Linked DNA regions of Homo sapiens: all the other regions are linked to region 4. Evidence: fine-mapped expression QTL. A gene starts in region 4. Each other region holds a variant in brackets. All regions are shown on one strand. Distances are from middle to middle.

Region 1 (5,000 bases), 74 kb before region 4:
TGGACTCGGAAAACATTAAAATGCAATACTGTAACGACAGCTTATTCTTTAATAAAAGTCAGGGGTGTCAGCAGCGTCACTGGTAAGACATGATGGCGCTCCACGACTGACCAGCAGCGCTGGGAAGGGACACGCAGAACCCACCTTCCAACCACGCCCAACACATCACAGAAATGCCTGCTCGTTTGTTTTGATTCATATACAAAGTTACAAAGTATTTCCTGCCCCAAATTCTTAACGAAAATGAAAGAAAACCCTAGAATGCGGTGGTTTTACAAGTATATTAGCCCAGAACATCCTAGGCAGCTGCGCGGGCCGCGGGTGCGGCAGGGCGCAGGGCAGCACCCAGAGCCCCGGCCAGCGCGAAACGGACGCAGGCGCATCCCCAGCCCTCCGTGGCGTCTCAGCAGCAGATCACCCAGGCCTGGCCCGGTCGGGCTTGGTGTTGCCTCCGAAGTCGAGACGACGGTGCTGCTCAGTTATCTTCCGCCTTTCCGCACTATGGTGGGCAGGCGACACTGCTGCGGGGCAGGCTTAAGGTCCTTCTGCGGATCTGTCTGTCAAAGAAAAATTACAGACACAAAATTCAGTGGCGGCCTGGGCTGGGTCGAAGAGCAGCGCCGTCAGAGAAGCTGGTTCCGCGCTACCTTCTTGCTCGCAGGGATGCACTTCAAGGGTCTCAGCACCGGCACTCTTCCATTTGTTCCAGATCCAAGCACGGACTGCAGCGTGGGGCTGGAGTAAGACGACAGTCTGACCACTCCCGAAAGCTTTAGTTTGGGCAGTTCCATGACATAGGCCGGTCCTCGTCTCTTGGGACGGTCCTCCTCTTGCTTTAGGGACTGTTTCTTGAAACAGAACAGAGGCCAGTTGGACATAAAACGCTTTCTGCTTTATGGAAATTAGGAAAAACGAAAGAGGCTCTTTTGTACTGCTTTTGCCTAATACAATTTCTTGACCATAAGATGTGACTGGGACACATCCACCAGGTCCCAGACACCCCAAGGGAGTGGCTGCCCACTAGAGTCCCACGGGGGAGGCCAAACCTTCAGGGGGAACCTGAAGAATGCCGACTGCAAGCTGAGCAGTGCGGGCGGCAAAGGGCTCGCGGGCTGTGGTGCCCACGCCTCCTGCCTCCTGCTCTAGCTCCAAGGTCTCACACCCTGATCTGCCTGTCGCCTGGTTTTGGGTGGCTTGTGAGCTAAGGATGGTTTTACATTTGGGGTTTTTTGTTTGTTTGTTTGTTTTGAGACACGGTGTTTGTTGCTCTGTAGCACAGACTGGAGTGCAGTGGTGCAATCTTGGCTCACTGTAGCCTCAGCTTCCTAGGCTCAGGCGATCCTCCTGCCTCAGCCTCCCAAGTAGCTGGGACCAAAGGCACGCACCACACCCAGCTAATTTTTAAAACAGATGGGGTGGTGGGGCAGTGGTCTTGCCTACGTTGCCCAGGCTGGTCTCAAACTCCTGGCCTCAAGTGATCCTACCCTGGCCTCCCTAAGCACTGGGTTTACAGGTGTGAGCCACCGCACCCACCTGGTTTTTATTTTTAATGACTGAAAAAAAAATGTTTCATGGCATGTGAAAATTATGTGAAATTCAAATTTTAGTGTCCCCAGTTCTACTGGAACGCAGCCCCTATGTGGTTCATGTGTTGCCTCCAGCTCCTTTCACACTGCAGCAAAGCAGGGAGTGTAACGAACACCCCACGGCCACGGGGCCTAAAATATTTCCTATCAGACCCTTAGAGAAAAATATGCCGACCTCGGATGTGACTGAGGGTGGGGACTTGGGTGAATGCCGGCCAGGAGTGACATCAAGGGTTTGAAGCAGACCCTCTGTCCAGGAGGGAGCGGAGGCAGAGCAGGGACAGTAGTGAGGAGGCCATCTGTGGTGACTTAGGCAAGGTGAGGAGGATGTAGGAGGCAAGAAGGCGAAGCCCCTGTGGGATGAAGGAAGGGTCCACGGGGGGCCTGGGCAGTTGACGGAGTTGCCTCCCTCGGAGGGAAGGCCATGGGAAGCCACAGGGAAAAAGCACGTTTGGGGAAAGATCAGGAGAAGGGGTTTCAGCAAGTCTGTCTTTCGGACATTCAAGTGGAGCTGTCAAATCAGGGACCAATGGGACACAGGAGCCTGGCTTTCTGGAGAGCAGCCTGACTGCAGCTCTGGGTTCCCAGCTCCCAAGCGGTCAGGGAGCACTCGGTAAAGGCTGGGAGGAGCGAGTGACGTACGGACGACCGAACAGACGAATGATGGAAGGGCACACTGTCACACTGTTGGGGTGCCAGCCCAGAACTGGGAGACTGGTGTGACCCTGCCAGCAGGTGACACAGGGCTGCACCAGGCTAGGATGCCACACGGTAGGTGGGAAGGTGAAGGCACTGAGGGGCAAAGCTGGCATTTCTCAACCGAAAATGTGCACAACCTCTGCTGATGGGACGAAGTGCTCATCTGGAGCCAGGCAGAGACAGTGACTTGAGACCTGTCACTGGCTGGGTGGGTGACTTGGGCCAGCATTGCATCTTCTTGGCGCCTCCCTCCAGGGCCGTTCTGAGGGGCGATGTCTGCACGGTGCTTTGGCATAGAACCTGGCACCTGCATATGGTCATCAGGACAGACACAAAAGTTCATGCAAACATCCCCTCTCTGGGCCTGCTCACATGGGATATTCGTCATCAATTCTTAGCTACTGGGGCAGAAAGGGCTTGAGCAAATAGAACTGGGGTCCCTGATGTCCCAACACATGGAGCCATCAACTCGCATGCTGTTCAGGCCTCGACTGACAATGTGGTCTGCCACAGCCTCCACAGGTGGCGTCCTCCTGAGAGAGACACAGGCCACCCGAGGGCATCCAGTCCCGGCTGAGCTAGGCAGTCTCCGGCTCCGATTT[C/T]GCTTAGTACCTGCTTTCTGCCCTCCTTGGAAATCTGGCAGCTGTTACTGAGTGGTTCCGGTGCCACAGGGTGCTCCGGAAAGCCAGCTTTTCTGTGGCTGCCCAGAGCCCGCTTCTCTGTTTTCCTACGGGGAAGGAGAAGAGAATGGAGCAGCTCCACTGAGAGCCCGCAGAGCACACGGCCTACTGGCTTCTTTGTCTCCAATTTGTCTACTGTGTGAGTTGTCACTAGCTCTTCTTTTCTGCCTGAGCTGTAATCAGGAGCCTTTTTTTTTCTTTTCTGTCTCAGCCTGACAGTCTCTGGGCCAGGAACAGAGCTGGCTCCATGAATCAGAAGCGCTGCCTACCCAGGGACTCGCAGTTTCAGATCAAACTGTCACCTCCACAGTTAGGCAAACAGGAGTGTCCAGAGGTCCGGAATTAGGTGACCTCAGGGCAGACAGGTCTTAGATTCACATTCAGCAGGTACTTCCAGCGCCAGGTGACATCCACAGTGCTCTACCATCTCAGAATGCATCCTGTTCACACCATTTACAAGGGCCGCACACCAGGCTCTTCTAGAAGGATTACTACCTGTAGCCTTGGCATCAACCGCAAAGTGGACAGCCAGCCCCTCTTTCTCCTGCCGTGGAGCTGCTAACATCCTCATTTTGGGGAGGATACACCAGAAGGCAGCACGGTGTGGGCCCCAAGAGGCCCTGACCACTCTTCAGGATAGAGAGCGCGATTCCCAAGAACCAGGGACCCTCCAGGGGGCAGTACCTTGCCCCACCATGTGCCCATGGGTCTCATTTGCCAGGTCCTGCATCTGCCCCACCGAACCCACGAGAGTGCCTACCTCTGTTCTTGGAAGTAGGGGTGCTGCAGGGCCTGGTGGGCGGCGATTCTCTCATCGGGATCATAGGCCACCATTGCGTGCAGGAGGGAGAGGCATTGTGGGGACAAATTGGTTGTTAGTAGAGGTATTCCTGATCCCTTTTTAAAAGGAAAATCAAAATTCATAGCTCTCGACCTGTATTAAAAACCCAATGATAATAAATGGTCATGCTGTCACTGAGCGCACCGGTGGTCCACTGTCACAACTAAGGGCCCTGTGTGGTGGGGAATGGTTTATGACTGCAGAGTCTACACCTGTCCCAGCCCACAGAACGTGCACCACCAAGAGGGACCCCTGATGTAAATGATGGGCTCTGTGTAGTAATGAGATATCCACGGTTCATCGACCATAATAAACACACCACTCGAGGCAGGTGCTGACGACAGGGGAGGCTGTGTGCACATGGGGACAGGGCTCTATGGAAACCTAAAACTGCTCTTAAAAAAATCTATTTAAAAATAGTCTATTATAAAGGGGGGGATCTGTTATGCTAAAAATGTAAGAAAACTACCTTTCCTATAAAAGATTAATATCACCTTCCCACATGAGAAGAATGAAATAAAATTTAACAAAAAAAGAAGAGTCCAAAATGGTTGCCACCTTCTCCCTCCCTGGGATGTGGGGGCCGCTGGGTGCTACTTGCCCCTCAGCCCACAGGCCCTCCCTGGGAAGTCCCAACTCCCAGCCTCAGCTTCACCAGAATGACCCTAAGAGTCCGGGAACACCTCTTCCAGGCGTCGGTCCCGCCAGCAGGGCTGTGGAGGGCTGCAGAAAGCCCTCACCACCTATGCTCTGTGCTTGGGGAACGTTTCCACCCAAAGGCTTCTAAGTCCTGTTTAAATTACTCAGGGAACACAGCCTGACTCCCCAGCCCTCAGAAAGCCTGTGACAAATCTTTCTGTGATGCTCAAGGAAGAGCTCACCTTTGAGACCACTTAAAGTGATGGGCTCTGTCTGAGCAGCCACTCACTGGCCCTCAAGTGAACTTGAACCCCTGTAGTCAGCCAAAGGAGCTCCTGAGAGGGGTTTGAGGGAGGCACAGGGAGGGGCTTGCCCTGCTGCAGGTCCTAGCAGGGGAGTGGGTCCACATCCACTCTCAGAACACAATACTTACTGTTTGAACTTGGTGAGGATCTTCTGAGCGGGTGTGCCGATGACATCGTGGATTTTTGAGATTTGGTCCAGTTCATTTACTCCAGGAAAGAGGGGCTGCAGACTGGAAGGGCAGAAGGGGCA
Region 2 (5,385 bases), 150 kb before region 4:
AGTCATGGTCACACCACTGCACTCCAGCCTGGGCAACAGAAACCCTGTCTCTAAAACAACAAAAAACAGTTGTAAGGAGTCCATGGCACAGAAAGTTTAAGCACCCTGATTTAGGTAAGTCTTCCCTTAACTTCTTTAGTATCTCATGTGTGATTGAATATAAGAAGGGTGACTAGTTTCTTATGTCCTGTGAAGTGTAACTTTTAGCTCCATGAAGAGCTCTCTTGTGGTACTTTCACTCAGCAGTTGCTCATCTAGAATTCTAAGCTGGCCATGCTTTTTGCTTCATTTTTCTTCTTCCTGATCATTCTTGCTGCCCTAACTAGAGGGCAGAATACAAGAACCACTCCACAAGGTGGACTCTGTTCCATTTGGTTCAGATAGTAGGTGATGACAGTGTAATATTTGTCTCAATTGCAGCAGGAACTTTAGAGAAGATTTAATAAGGTGTCATTTGAATTCAGATGGTGGGTCAGCTGAAAGGGGAGGGGATTCTAAACCAAGAGAACTAGAAGTTCAAGGCCTAAGGATGTGGCAGCTGCTGGCTCCTTCTGGGAGTGTGAGCTGCAGTGTGAGGGCTGAAGCTTGTGCAAGGCTTGGGGAGGGTAGGATTATCTTCCTTAGTGGTGGTCATTTAAATGTTGGCCTCTTTTAGAATTCTTAGTATGATTTAAAAAGTGTGTCTTAAAATGTATTTTCTTTTGGTGCTAGTTCCAAAGTAATGTACTACATTAGTGTATTGTCCTCCTTTAGGGCTGAAGTCATCAGATTGTATCAGTGCTGTCTCGGGGTGCTATCGCTTCCCTTCCTTTCTCAATGTTTTCAGCCCCTGCCTCACTGCCACTGTCTCAAGCATTACCCCTGTTCCAGTGCAGTGAGCAATCATTATAACGCCCCTCGTATACACACTCGATCCCAGTCTTGGCTAAAGTGAATCCTCTGCCTACTGCACATCTGCACGTGTGCCCTGCATGTGGTTGAAGGATAGCACATCTGTGCTGCCTACACTCCCCTAAGATTCAGAACCATCACCTTGGAGGGGTGCATGGTGCTGACAAGCAGTTGCACCACACTGACCCCACCCTTCTAGATGACAATTTTTTTTTTTAAGATGGAGTCTCACTCTTGTTGCCCAGGCTGGAGTGCAATGGCGTGATCTTGGCTCACTGCAACCTCTGCCTCCTGGGTTCAAGCGATTCCCCTGCCTCAGCCTCCTGAGTAGCTGAGATTACAGGCATGTACCACCACGCCTGGCTAATTTTTGTATTTTAAATAGAGACGGGGTTTCACCATGTTGGTCAGGCTGGTCTCAAACTCCTGACCTTATGATCCGCCCACCTTGGCCTCCCAAAGTGTTGAGATTACAGGCATTAGCCACTGTGCCCAGCCTAGATGACAATTTTACAACTTTGTCCTCAGATCTTCAATAACCTACTTCCCTATCCTTATTCTTAGTTGATGACTGTACTTCTTATTTCACTTAGAACAATTAAACAGTCAAAAGAGAATTTCTCCAGATTTCTACCCTCACATCTCAGCTTCTGTCTGTACCGGATGCCTTCCCTTCTATTTTTAAGGAAGAGCTCTGCCCCTGTCTAAAGTCACCTCCCCGACTCGTTCGCTAAATCCCACCTCATTTTGGCTAATCGGTATTCTCTGTTTCCTACAAACGTGTCGCTGTTTCTCTCATTTTAAAACAGTTGTCAGGGGGAGAGACTCTTTCTGACACCCACTCATTTTCTTTCTTTTTTTTTAAGGCAGGGTCTCTCTCAGTCACCCAGACTGTAGTGTAGTAATGTGATCAAAGCTCACCGCAACCTTTAACTCCTGGCCTCAAGCGATCCTCCCACCTCACACTCCCAAGTAGCTGGGACTAAAAGGGTGCACCACCACACCCCTGGCTAATTTTTACATTTTTTGTAGAGATGGAGTCTCACTATGTTACCCAGGCTGGTCTTGAACTCCTGGGCTCCAGTGGTCCTGCTTCATCCTCCCAAAGTGCTGGGATGACAGGCATGAGCCACCGCACCCAGCCCACCCACTCATTTTCTATGGGTCATGTGCCTCCAGTTGCTGCTGGCCCATTTCTCAGCTACTTCTTAGAGCAAAGCACCTCTAGTTGTTTAAATTGTCTCAGCCCTCAAAGTGTGATCCACAGAGCTACATCAGCATCATCAGCGGTCACCTGGGAGCCTGTTGGAAGTGCAGAATATTGGCCCCATTTACTGAATTAAATCTGCATTCTAAGACAATCCTCAAGTGTTTCAGGTACACACTAAAGTTGAAGAGGCACTGGTCTTTACTAGCTTTCTTTGATTGTTTCACCGCCTCTTAAAACTTAATCCAGCTGGGTGCGGTGGCGCACGCCGGTAATCCCAACACTTTGGGAGGCTGAGGTGGGCAGATTGCTTTATCTCAGGAGTTCCAGACCAGCCTGGGCAAAACAGACCTCATCTCTATTAAAATTTTTTGAAAAGATCAACGAGGAGTGGTGACCTGTGCCTGTAGTCCCAGCTACTTGGAAAGCTGAGGTGGGAGGATCATTTGAGCTGGGGAGACAGAGGTTGTAGTGAACCGAGATCAAGCCACTGCACTCCAGCCTAGGCAACAGAGGAAGAGCCTGTCTCCAAAAAAATAAAAACCTTGATCCAGTTTTGGGAGGCTGAGGTGGGAGGATCACTTAAGACCAGGAATTTGAGACCAGCCTGGGCAACATTGTGAGACCCTGTCTTTACAAAAAATTTAAAAACTAGCCAGGCATGGTGGTACACATCTGTAGTCCTGCTACTTGGGAGGCTGAGGCGATAGGATGGCTTAAGCCCAGGAATTCAACGCTTCAGTGAGCTATGATCATACCACTGCACTCCACCCTGAGTAACAGAGCGAAACCCTGTCTCTAAAAACAAACAAAAAACTTGAATGCGCTCAAATTATTTCTTCTTGCTAT[CTGTTT/C]TAAGTGTACAATTGAATGATTTTTAGTAATTTATTGAGTTGTACAATTATCACTGTAGTCTAGTTTTAGAACAGGAGAGATTGGTTTTAAAATTTAATTTTATATTTCAGTTATGCAGAACATTTACATGGTTGCAGCATATAGAACAAGGTTATATTCAGAGAGGTCTGTCTTCTAGTCCTGTCCTCCTTCCCCCTCCTAGCTCCCTTCCTCTAACTATAGATAATATTTTATTTGTTTTTGACTTATTCTTTTGTTGTTACACGAATAAGACAACATTTGAGCAGAGATGGGAAGGAATTGAGGGAACATACTGTGTATGGTATTTTACATCTTGTTTTTTCTGCTTAATGATCTATATTGGAGATCTTTCCATTTTAGTAAAAGAGAGCTTCACTCTTTCTTGTCATTGCTTTGTACTCCATGCTGTGGATGTACCATAATTTATTTGACGACATCACTCTTGATTGATTGATGATCCCTTTAAAAAATATGAATAATGGCCGGGCGCGGTGGCTCACGCCCATAATCCCAGCACTTTGGGAGGCTGAGGCAGGTGGATCACAAGGTCAGGAGATCAAGACCATCCTGGCTAACACGGTGAAACCCCGTCTCTACTAAATATATAAAAAAAAAAAATTAGCCAGGTGTAGTGGCAGGCACCTGTATTCCCAGCTACTTGGGAGGCTGAGGCAGGAGAATGGCGTGAACCCAGCGAGTGGAGCTTGCAGTGAGCCGAGATCGCGCCACTGCATTCCAGCCTGGGTGACAGGGCAAGACTCTGTCTCAAAAAAAAAAAAAAAAAAAAGAATAATGCTGCAGTGAATAACCTCACATGTATGATAAATTTCCAGAGGAGGATCATTTCCTCACATGTATGATAAATTTCCACATGTATGATAAATTTAACCTCACATGTATGATAAATTTCCAGTGGATACACTGGGTCAAAGCATAACTGCATATATATATATATATATATATTTTTTTTTTTTTTTTTTTTTTTTTTGAGGCAGAGTCTCACTCAGTCGCCCAGGCTAGAGTGCCGTGGCACAATCTTGGCTCACTGCAACCTCCGCCTCCCGGGTTCAAGCAGTCCTCCTGCCTCAGCCTCCCAAGTAGCTGGAATTACAGGTGCCTAGCACCATGCTCAGCTATTTTTTTTTTTTTTTAAGACAGGATCTCTCTCTGTCACCCAGGCTGGAGTGCAGCGGTGCGATCATGGCTTACTGTAGCTTCAGCCTCCTGGTCTCAAGCAACTCTTTGACCTCAGCCTCCTGAGTAGCTGGGACTACAGGCTCGAGCCACTGTGCTCGTTTAATTTTTGTGTTTTTTGTATAGACAGGGTTTCGCCATATTGCCCATGCTGGGTTCACTAGTGTGTTTTAGCATTTAGCATACTTAGGAATGTTGTGGTTTACAAGTAACAGGAAACCCATTCAAACTGTTTAAATTTTAAAGGGGTGTATTGGTGTATGTCACTGAAAATTCCACAGGTACAGTGGGCTTCAGGCATGGTTTGATTGGGATGCCAGCTCCGTTTTGCTGAGATTCCATTGGTTCTGCTTTCTACCGTGTTTCAGCCCGGTTTAGGTGGCAAAACAGTGGTGGAAATGTTAGGCTTCACATCACCGTACCACATAGACCAAAATGAGAGCTAATATCCAGGATGAGAATGAACAGCTCTTCTAATCAGGCTGTCATAAAAATAAGGAAGCTTATTTTATAGAAGCCTTTACCAAACCTCCTTCTTTGACTTGTTGTTCCAAATTGGATTAACCAGCCCATTCCTGCGGCCAAGGAAATACGCACTGGTTAACCCAGTCTTTACTAACCCATACCTTTAGCAAAGAGATTGGATTACCCAACAACTTGATTGCTCTGGAGACTACTTTGGAGTTGGGGTATGAGATAGTAGATAGGAGAATGATCTGTAAGTAGATATTGGATAAGCGAGTAAGAAATGCAAACTACACTGAGGTCTTGCACTGGTCTAGGTTTTGGGACCCAGATGTAATAGACATAGTTCTTTTCTCGAGACAAGCTCATAGGAGAACCGGTACAGCAGGGAATACAACACACTGGAATTGGCACATTGAGTGCACCTTTGACTGCATTGTACTGTTTCGTGGTTTAAACCTGTCTTTCCTTTGCCCTTGCTGTTTGACTACTATGATTGAGCTGCCACCTTTTCACACAATATTGGAATTTTTTGTTTGAATCTCTGTTTACCCTACTGGACTGTGAATCTTGAGGGAAGAAACCATATCTTATTGATCATATCAATAAGTGCCTGTACGTAGTAGGCACATTATGTTCATTTTTAAGTTGAACAAAATTGGAACTAATTTGTTGAAATTATAGTCCTCCAACAAGGACTCACTTGAATACATCAGATAATCTTTCTTTCTTTTTCTCTCTCTCTCTTTCTT
Region 3 (5,385 bases), 50 kb before region 4:
TGTCCACGGCTATTTCACGGTTACGCTAAGAGGGGAAATATGACATAGGAGAGGTTAAAATAGAAGAGATGGCAGTCTTAACTTTGTGGTTGAAATATCTTATTTTTGCAAATTTAACAAAATCTATAAACATGGTGGAGACACCGCAAGGGCCTGTTTTGGAAGCCCCGGGCGAGTCAGCTCTATCAGCTGCATAGTGACTCTGCTGCTGCTCTAGCACACGTGGTTTTTCTGAGTTTTGAAACAGGTGAAGCAGGTTTGGGAAACTGCCAATTAAAAAATTAATAAACAATAAACGTTACTGAAGAATGACAGAATTGTTGATAATTTTTTTCCTTTTTAGTGGAAATGTAGTAATTGTACCTACTAATGGGACCCAGAGAGTGTTATTTTGATCCATACATACAATGTGTAAGGATGAAATCGGGGCAATTAGCACATGCGTCAGCTCTGTGAACATTCAGAGCGCATGTGCTATGGTTTCAGTGGGAACAGCACTGAGCAATCGTCACACAAGTAGCATGGTCTGACAGCCTCAGCCGGCCTCGGAGGCCTTCCAGGACGCTGTCCTTCAGCCTACACTGATTATGAAAATGTTAGGAGTCACTCGTCAACCCAGTGTTCCACTAGGCTTTCCTGTTTATGTGGAGATGTCCACTTTAAAGGGGGACAGATCACAGTTCAAGAAGCAGTTCAACTGCTTTCAGTCACAGTCCACATGTCTTCTTTCACAGGAGAGGCCGTTTAGCGTGGCTGGCACAGTCCCCTGCAGCTGCCCTGTACTCAGCACCTGGGCTGGCTGTGCCTTGGTGCCCGCAGCTTTCTACCGTGCTTGAAGACGTCATACCACATGCCCAGCATCACAGTTTACCCCTGTTCCAGAAGATGTCAATTTTACTTGATTTTAATTTTCAAAGTGTGTGTTTTAAGTTATTAAGTTTTAAATCTGCACAATGACCATGTTCACCTAACAGTTTGGAAATCCACTTCCTCCCTCCATGAGCACATATACCATTTGACACTTTTGGTCCTAAGTTTACAATTTCTTTTGAAAAATTAAAATTATTCTTTTTCTCTACTTAACAAGAATATATAAATAATAGAAAGTAATTTAAATTGTAAAATGTCTAGGTGCAATTAGCTTTTTCTTTTTTTTTTTGGGACGAAGTGTAGCACTGTCGCCCAGGCTGGAATGCATTGGTACGATCTCCGCCCACTGCAACCTCCACCTCCCAGGTTCAAGCAATTCTCCTGCCTCAGCCTCTCGAGTAGTTGGAATTACAGGCACCCGCCACCACTACACCCTGATAATTTTTTTGTATTTTCAGTAGAGACGGGGTTTCACTATGTTGACCAGGCTGGTCTTGAACTCCTGACCTCGAGATCCGCCCGCCTCGGCCTCCCGAAGTGCTGGGATTACAGGCTTGAGCCACTGCGCCTGGCCGCAATTAACTTTTTTGTGTCATACTATCATCTTTTTATTGTTTCACATGATTTATCATCAATTTTCCAGAATTAAAATCAAAAGAATCAAAAGTAAGACCTTTATCAGCTTTCCCAAGCTGATAATTCTGGAATCTTATTAAATTAATATCTATAACAGATAAAAAGAAAGCAACTTTCCATTTGCCTTCACACACGCAGCAGAATGAAGCTGCTGGAATTTCATCTCATCAGGTGCTCCTGGGTCCTGTGATCAAACCCAGTCTCACTGCTCCCGACTTACCCCGGCACTCAAGACCCCCTTCAACCAATTCCTCTCCACCAAAAGGGTTCTCAGACTCCCACGAGTGGGTTGCTAAGACACATACTGTCCCTCCCCATCTCCACCCACATGTCTGATTCAGAAGGTCTGCAATGGGGCCCCACAGTCGCCTAACTAGAGCCCCAGGTGCAGCTACTAGTCTTGGGTCCTCGCTTCGAGAACCATGCCCCACCACCCCCTTCTTGTTTATCGAATGCTCAGGTGAATTCCCTCATGGACTCTTCTCTGGTTGCTCCCAAAGCTCGCCTGCTTAGTACCTATATTCATGATGTTCCATTCCAGGAACGCCCTTCCCAGCCATGTCCACACATTTAAATCTTACTCGTATCATAAAATTGTCATTAGAGTCATCTGAACTTGAACTTGGGAAACGTGGAATCTTTTAGGAAAAGTCTAATCTATCCAATCTTCATAATCACCTAGAAGTCTTTTAAAAAGCTGATTAAAAAGCCTGTAATCCCAGCACTTTGGGAGGCTGAGGCAGGCGGATCACGAGGTCCGGAGATCGAGACCATCCTGGCTAACACGGTGAAGCCCCGTCTCTATAAAAATACAAAAAATTAGCCAGGCGTGGCGGCAGGCGCCTTCAATCCCAGCTACTTGGGAGGCTGAGGCAGGAGAATGGTGTGAACCTGGGAGGCGGAGCTTGCAGTGAGCTGAGATCGTGCCACTGTACTCCAGCCTGGGTGACACAGTGAGACTCTGTCTCAAAAAACAATAAAATAAAATTTAAAAAAAAAGCAGATTTCAAGGCCTGAACCTAGACCTAATGGAGCCACAAACGGGCATGCGGGCCAGGAATCTGTGCTTCTCAGATGCCTTCAGTCCCAGGTAAGAGTCCTCTTCAGGTGCCCACCCTTCCTTGCCTCCCTGGGTCTCCTCCTGGAAACTCCCTATTCACAGCCCTAGGGGTAGGGAGCCGTCCTGGTCCCGGGCCAGTAGTTGGGGGTGTTACTGCTGGCATGAGGTATCAGAGCAACAGTGTGGGCCCAGTAGTCTGAAGTGCTGGAGACCACACCCTTGCAAAGGAAAGCACTGCCTAGCCACTCTCCATAAGCTTCTCCAGAACAAACTTTCCGGGCCCAAGACTATCTGGTTCCCATCAGATTCTTGTTTTCAAACAGTTTGAAACAAGTAAAATAGAGTACAATTAACGAGTTACTCAGAAGTTTCTTATATGCCCCTTAGTGAATTCCAGCAGGCCCCAAAAGCATTTCCCTCATCTGCTCTAGCTATCCTGACCAAGGTAATTTTTACAAGTTAATTTTTACCAAATATTCTCATTAAGAAGGAATGTCATATATGATACTAATAATTTTAAAAACTTAAGTGAACACAGTGATAAACCAAGGCATTCACTGTGACTCAGCACTAACTGAAGGAATACAGCTGCCACTGTAGCCTGCAGAATGACGGCATCCCCAGCACACGCCCCTCCAGCGAGGGTGGAGAGAACTACGAACTAGCCATTCATTAAGGCAAATGAGTTATTATTATT[T/A]TTTTTTTTTGAGACAGGGTCTCACTCTGTTGCCCAGGCTGGAGTGCAGTGGTACAATCAGCTCATTGCAGCCTCGACCTCCTGGGCTCAAGCCATCCTCCCACCTCAGCCTCCTGAGTAGTTGGGTCTACAGGCGTGTGCCACCACACCCGGATGCTTTTTTTTTTAATTTTTTGGGCTGGGCACGGTGGCTTACACCTGTAATCCCAGCACTTTGGGAGGCTGAGGCAGGCGGATCACGAGGTCAGGAGATTGAGACCATCCTGGCTAACACGGTGAAACCCCGTCTCTACTAAAAATACAAAAAAAAATTAGCCAGGCTAATTTAGTGGTGGCGGGTGTCTGTAGTCCCAGCTACTCGGGAGGCTGAGGCAGGAGAATGGCGTGAACCCGGGAGGCGGAGCTTGCAGTGAGCTGAGATCGCCACTGCACTCCAGCCTGGGCAACAGAGCGAGACTCCGTCTCAAAAAAAAAAAATTGTTTTTTTGTACAGACAGAGTCTTAGGCTAGTCTCAAACTCCTGTGCTCAAATAATCCTCCCGCCTTGGCCTCCCAAAGTGTTGGGACTACACACGTGAGCCACTGCACCTGGCCCTATGAATTTAACTTGAAACAGTTAAAAAAAAAAAAAAAAGAGCAGAATCAGATACAATTTTGTAAAAGAGTAGCTGCCTCTATAGTCAGAGTATGAGGGAAACTAAACCTCCTTTACGGTTTTTCCTTCATAAATTCCAAGACAGGCTTTCCTACTGCAGATGGCATGAGCCCAGAGCCATAAGCACACGCGCCCAAATACACAAACTAGGATCGCTGGCGGGTAGCCATGCTCTATTCACCCCAATTACTAACTCACGCCAAAGAATTCAGAGACATTCATCCAGAGACAGTGGCGGGCAAAGGGCCTTCGCCATCCCTTCCCCAGGCTCCCACACCACTCTTGCCTTCATGGCACACCCGCAGATTGGCTTGCTCAGGTCCTATCCCAAACCCCCATCTAGCATGCCAGGCCTGAACGTCCAAATGACATTCTTCATGCTGCCTTGCAGCTGAGTGTTCCAGATGTGACTTAGGCTCTGCCTAAATGGGAACACTTGGGAAAGATGCTTCTGGCCCAGGTATGGGGGCAGATGAGAGGAGGGAAGGCATCTATTCTGACGGCATGGATCACGGCTGCCTCCTGATCCTGGCAGAAGAGGCATGATTCCAGGCCTGGTAGCTGCAGCAGCTTTATTCTGCAGAGCGTTGTCAGCGGCAGGGCCAGCAGCCTGATCATGGAGAGCAGAGTTGTGAGAAGCAACTTCCTATAGGCCAAGCCCAGAGTCTGCTTCTTCAGTCCTCCCAACAATTCTGGCAATCTATCCATATCACAGAGTAACCCCTCTTGAGTTAATCAGAGAATAGGGGAGGCTGTTATTTGCAACTAAAAGGGAGAACCAACACATCCACCTACAGCACATTTATTCTTTAAACAGCAACTGGAGAATTCCTTCTAAAAAGATGCTACTCAAAGCACAGTCCATGAGCTGATGATGGTTCAGGGACTGTTACTGGTCTAAGAGGAGATGACATAAATTAAGAATAACTGTTTAGGGCTGGGCGCAGTGGCTCACGCCTGTAATCCCAGCACTTTGGGAGGCTGAGGTGGGCGGATCACGAGGTCAAGAGATCGAGACCATCCTGGCCAACATGGTGAAACCCCGTCTCTACTAAAAATACAAAAATTAGCAGGGCGTGGTGGCACGCACCTGTAGTCCCAGCTACTTGGGAGCCTGAGGCAGGAGAATTGCTTGAATCCGGGAGGCAGAGGTCGCAGTGAGCAGAGATCACGCCACTGCACTCCAGCCTGCCAACAGAGTGAGACTCTGTCTCAAAAAAAAAAAAAAAAGAATACCTGTTTAGAACCACTTATAGCAATTTGACATGCTGTGACATCTAAGCACGTGATCACTTTTCTGGTAATTCATTTTTACTATATTTTACAAAAATTCTGGTCTGCAATATATTAGAAATAAAACAACTGGTCTTCTGTGATCGTTTTGGAAACACTGGTCTAAACACCAATTGAAAACCACCTCTCCCTTGCTTTAAAGCCCAATAATGGCTTCCCATTGAACTTAGAGTA
Region 4 (5,385 bases):
CAGCCTCCCGAGTAGCTGGGACTACAGGTGCCCACCACCACGCCTGGCTAATTTTTTGTATTTTTAGTAGAGCCGGGGTTTCACCGTGTTAGCTGGGATGGTATTGATCTCCTGAACTCGTGATCTGCCCGCCTCGGCCTCCCAAAGTGTTGGCATTACAGGTGTGAGCCACTGCGCCCAGGCAGCATATGTACATATTTCTATATAGGTATACACATGCAGTGCTAACATTAGTCTTTTAAAAAGGGAGAAATACACATTTATATATTTATATATAATATATATAGAGAGAGTAAATTACTGAAAGTGATGCCTCTAGGTAGTGGGGTATGAAGAGTCTAAGAGGAAGGCCAGGCACAGTGGCTCGCGTCTGTAATTCCAACACTTTGGGAGGCTGAGGCGGGTGGATCGCTTGACGTCAGGAGTTTGAGACCAGCCTGGCCAACATGTTGAAACCCCGTCTCTACCAAAAAATACAAGTTAGCTGGGCGTGGTGGTGCACACCTGTAATCTCAGCTACTTGGGAGGCTGAGGTAGGAGAATCACTTGAACCCGGGAGGCAGAGGTTGCAGTGAGCCAAGATTGCACCACTGCACTCCAGCCAGGGTGACACAGAGAGACCCTGTCCAAAAAAAAAAAGAGTCTAAGAGAAAAAGAAGGTAGATAAATAAACCAAATGATCAAATCTAACTTCAGCAAAACTGCAACGAACTGACATCAGGCACTCTGGAAGGGCCACACTGACAGAGACACAACGTTGCCTCTCACATATTCCTGGTAAAAACATTTAAGCTGAAGCTAATCATGAGGCGAAAATCAGACAAATCCAAATTGAGCGATATTCTGCAAAACACTGGGCTGGATTCTTTAAAAATGTCATTTGGCCTACAGAGGACAGCCAAATAAAAATGAAAATATCATTGTCATGAAAGACACAAAAGGCAGGGACACCATATTAAAAGAGACCAAAGAGATATGACAACAGAATACAATTGGTGATTCTTGATTGGATAGAAAAAATATAAACAACTATAACACATGTTATTGGGATAAATGGAAAAACTGAAATATGGACTGTGTATCAGAGTATTGTATCATTGTTAAATTTTCTAAATGTGTTATTTGTACTGTGATGATGTAGGAGAATGTCCTTGTTCTTGGCAGATAACTGCTGAAAGAAGTGGTGAATTATTAGTAGTCTACAACTAACTCTTGAAAGGTCCAGTGAAAATAAATACATAAATGGGAGAGAGAAAACACCAGAGCGAAAGCGAGCACACAAAAATAAGGCAAAATGGTGCAGCTAAGTGAAGGACGGGTTTATAAATATTCAATGTACTGCTCTTGCAACTTTCCTGTACATCTGAAAATTTTCAAAACAAACAGATGGGAAGAAAAAAATGAATATAGTACAAAATATGTGCAGTATCATAGTCTGCACTGTAAGTAAAAGTGTAAAGTCTTTTGTAGACCTTGGATTCTAACTACAGCTTTGTAGTGCATTAATGAAAAAGGTAAACATTAAACAATATCCAACAAAATAAAATAAAAATAAAAATGCCTTGTAAAGGGTGAATGAGATTAATTATTTTAAATGTTATGCAATGTACACCATTGACAATTAGGATACAATGCAAATTTAACATTATAACTACTCCTAACATAATATTTTCACAGCAAAGGTCTGAATTTTTACTGCACCTCTGGTTCACAACCATAAACAATTATATCTGTACAGTAATAATAATTTTAAAAACATCATTCTAGCTGGTTGCACTTGGATTGTCAATAATCCACAAATCCCACTAAAGAAAATTTTTTACCCGTTACATTTTCTAGAATGACTACCTCATTTCCCAACTTTGAAGTAACAGCTTTTAACTAAAAGGTTGCTTCAAAACTACTATTAAAAAGTGGTTCCTATAAAACACTACTGCTTGACCCAAAAAATAAAATAAAGCACACAGCCCAGCTTTCCTCTCAATTGGTCACTAAACCAGTATCATGAAAAGGCAGGGAGCCACGCTGTAAGCGCTCCCCCGTTTTCTGCCGAATGTTCAGGAAAAGAGTGTCAGGTTCAAGCCAGCATTTAAAATAAAATAAAATGAATCACAGTCAACTCCCTAAACTCCAATGTAAGAACCACGCACCTGCACCAAAATATGCCTGAGCGGGAACTCGAGTCGGCTCTCCGAGACCCCAAAGTTCCCAACCTAGCCCCAACCCCTCAAGCTTCCCCCAGGGGCACCGGCTTCTCACAGCCGAGGGGGATTCGGGGCCCACATGCGGAGCCTCCCGGGCCTGTCGAGCCACGGCAGAAGGCGACGACGCCCGGCCCCACAGGCCCCTCAAGCTCCTCAAGCTCCCCCAGTCCCTCCCTCCCCCGCCACTCGCTCTCCAGTCCCTGCCCCTTTCCCCGGCCCCACTCACTCTTCATCTTGGATGCGGAAGCCGGTGACAACCCCTTGCCGACACTGGACGGAAAAGAAAGAAGCAGGAAGGTTGTCCCCCTGCTTTCCACTTCCCTGAGGCGGGGTCCCGCACTAGGATCTCCGTGGTGGTCCCTCGAAGGAGAGCGTTAGAGATCCCGCCGCCATGTTGTGTCCCTGTCACCCTAGCAACCGTCAGGCCCTGAACGCCATGAGCTGTCGCCTGCGCATGCGCAAGATGCCCCGCCCATGTACGCGTGCGCAGTGCAGCCCGTCCCCTCAGCCCGGTTGCTAAGCAGCCTTTCCTCCGCTTCCATGTAAATACTGTGCAAATCCCCGCCTTTGACACAGGCGACCTTCGCTCGGCTCGCTCTCCCTGCTGGCCTGGGAACTTAGCGATTTGGAACCCACTACGTGGACGATAGCCTTGAGCTTTAATTGGGCTTGGGAGCTTCTACAGGAATTTTTTTTTTTTTTTGAGACAGAGTGTCGCTCTGTTACCCAGGTTGGGGTGCAATGGCGTGATCTCGGCTCACTGCAACCTCCGCCTCCCGGCTTCAAGCGATTCTCCTGCCTCAGCCTCCCAAGTAGCTGGGATTACAGGCACCCACCACTACACCCGGCTAATGTTTTTGTATTTTTAGTAGAGACGGGGTTTCACCATGTTAGGCTGGTCTCGAACTCCTGACCTCAGGTGATCCGCCTGCCTCGGCCTCCCGAAGTGCTGGGATTACAGGCGTGAGCCACCACGCCCGGCCCAGTTTTTCTTTTTAATTCAACAAGCATTTGTTTTTGCCCCAGGAACTGTCGCAGGTATTGGGGATTAAAGGACAGTGTAGACGAGGTGACTGAGTTCTTGAAACTAACATTCTAGTGTAAAGATGAATGAATGTACACCGGAATGAACTATGTGCAGACACGGTGCCTAAGCAACACAGTGGCCTAGTTCTCTGGACCCTGACAAAACAATAAAATAACAAGCATACTATGTATGGGTATAGTATTTTATGAAGCTCATTAGATTAGCCTCATAATTATTCCATGAGATCAAAACCCTGTTTTTTCCTCCATTTTTTTTCTTTTACTAAAATACATCGTTTATTTTTAAAACAGATAAGTAGCCTTGCCAAAACGAAGCCTCAGAAAATTGGTTTAAGACTGAATTGGCCAGGTGTGGTGGCTCACACCTGTAATCCCAGCACTTTGGAAGGCCGAGGCAAGAGGATCGCTTGAGGCCAGAAATTCAAGACCAGCCTGGGCAACATAGAGAAACCCCACTTCCCTCTTAAAAAAAAAAAAAAAAAAACTCCGGGCGTGGTGGCTCACGCCTGTAATCCCAGCACTTTGGGAGGCCAAGGCGGGCAGATCACGAGGTCAGGAAATCGAGACCATCCTGGCTAACACGGTGAAACCCCATCTCTACTAAAAATACAAAAAAAATTAGCCGGGCGTAGTGGCGGGCGCTATAGTTCCAGCTACTCCGGGGGCTGAGGCAGGAGAATGGCGTGAACCCTGGAGGCGGAGCTTGCAGTGAGCCGAGATTGCACCACCTGCACTGCAGCCTGGGCGACAGAGCAAGAGACTCAAAAAAAAAAAAAAAAAAAAAAAAAAGCCGGGCACGGTGGCACATGCCTGTAAACCCAGCTATTCAGGAGAATAAGGCGGAGGTATCTTGAGACCAGGAGTTCTAGGCTCAGTGAGCTATGATAGCACCACTGCACTCTAGCCTGGGTGACAAAGCAAGACCTTGTCTCGAAAGAAAGAGAAAGCGGCCGGTCGCGGTGGCTCACACCTGCAATCCCAGCACGTTGGGCGGCCGAGGCAGGCAGATCACTTGAGTCCAGGAGTTCGAGACCAGCCTGGCCAACATGGGGGAAACCCCGTCTCTACTAAAAAAATACAAAACGGCTGGGCACAGTGGCTGATGCCTGTAATCCCAGCACTTTGGGAGGCCAAGGCGGGTGGATCCCCAGGTCAGGAGTTCAAGACTAGCCTGGCCAAGATGGTGAAACCCCATCTCTACTGAAAATAGAAAAATGAGCCGGGTGTGGTGGCAGGCACCTGTAATCCCAGCTACTCGGGAGGCTGAGGCAGAGAATTGCTTGAACCCGGGAGGCGGAGGTTGCAGTGAGCCGAGATTGCGCCACTGCACTCCAGCCTGGGCGACAGAGTGAGACTCCGTCTAAAAAAGCAAATACATAAATAAAATACAAAACAAGCCAGGCGTGGTGGCTCACACCTATAATCCCAGCACTTTGGGAGGCCGAGGAGGATGGACCAACTGAGGTCAGGAATTCGAGACCAGCTGGCCAACCAACATGGTGAAACCCTGTCACTACTAAAAATACAAAAATTAGCCAGGTGTGGTGATGCGCTCCTGTAATCCCAGCTACTCAGGAGGCTGAGGCGGGAGAATCACTTGAACCCAGGAGGTGGAGGCTACAGTGAGTCGAGATCCTGCCACTACACTCCAGTCTGGGCGACAGAGCAAGACTCCATCTCAAAAAATAATAAATAAATAAATGGTTACAATGGTGAATTTTATGTAAATTTTCTCTCAATAAAAAAGTTGAAAAAATAAATAGCGATTATTGCTGGTGTATTATTGTTGGTGGTGCTATCTTTGTTGGCTTTGAGAAGCCACATCTAATCTCTCCAGACCACTAGGATTTGATCTATCCCTTCTTCTCTTCTTGTGTTCTTTCTTATTTGGGGGCTTGCCCTTATGTCACATTTATATTTCTAACCCTGTCTCTTGCTTGTTAGTTTCTTCTAACCAGGTGGGTTCTAAGTTCCTTGGGCCCCTCATGTGTCTTTTCTCTACCCTGCAGGGCAGAGTGTATTAAATAAGTGAACAGGTGAATGCATTTAGCAAGTGAGAGCCCCATTGTTTCCCAATTCACCAGGTGCTGATGGATTTTCTTCTTCCCTTCATTGTGGACAAGTGGTTCTCAGA

Alleles and levels. Alleles are on the strand shown, and positions count from the first base shown. SD is a standard deviation of normalised expression in the study named. Not every link is listed here.
For the expression in gastroesophageal junction of the gene that starts at base 2,633 in region 4, allele CTGTTT in region 2 goes with a higher level than allele C (small effect, 0.27 SD a copy in GTEx).

What was found. PIP is the estimated chance that this variant, and not a neighbour inherited with it, causes the effect. A credible set is the group of variants that fine-mapping cannot tell apart.
Region 1: its variant is the best candidate, but not a certain one, in a credible set for the expression of MOK in whole blood (TOPMed, PIP 0.62).
Region 2: its variant is the best candidate, but not a certain one, in a credible set for the expression of MOK in gastroesophageal junction (GTEx, PIP 0.56).
Region 3: its variant is the best candidate, but not a certain one, in a credible set for the expression of MOK in whole blood (TOPMed, PIP 0.54).

The regions. Positions count from the first base shown.
Region 1 is chr14:102,228,810-102,233,809 of GRCh38, forward strand. MOK (MOK protein kinase) reads right to left here. Exons shown (of 12, transcript NM_014226.3): 8 at 4,879-4,980; 9 at 3,726-3,899; 10 at 2,898-3,012; 11 at 648-848; 12 at 27-557. The coding sequence ends at 480. Among named protein-coding and RNA genes, the nearest start is that of MOK, 74 kb to the right of the region's middle. RefSeq lists an enhancer at 2,306-2,806. The variant C/T (reference allele first, on the strand shown) is at 2,888.
Region 2 is chr14:102,157,207-102,162,591 of GRCh38, forward strand. All of the region lies in intron 1 of WDR20 (WD repeat domain 20), which reads left to right. Among named protein-coding and RNA genes, the nearest start is that of WDR20, 20 kb to the left of the region's middle. RefSeq lists enhancers at 1-458, 1,641-2,141. The variant CTGTTT/C (reference allele first, on the strand shown) is at 2,948.
Region 3 is chr14:102,252,844-102,258,228 of GRCh38, forward strand. The region is part of intron 4 of MOK (MOK protein kinase); the gene reads right to left. Among named protein-coding and RNA genes, the nearest start is that of MOK, 50 kb to the right of the region's middle. The variant T/A (reference allele first, on the strand shown) is at 3,264.
Region 4 is chr14:102,302,532-102,307,916 of GRCh38, forward strand. It overlaps MOK (MOK protein kinase), which reads right to left and starts at 2,633. Exons shown (of 12, transcript NM_014226.3): 1 at 2,431-2,633. The coding sequence starts at 2,437. RefSeq lists enhancers at 2,514-3,036, 2,803-2,852.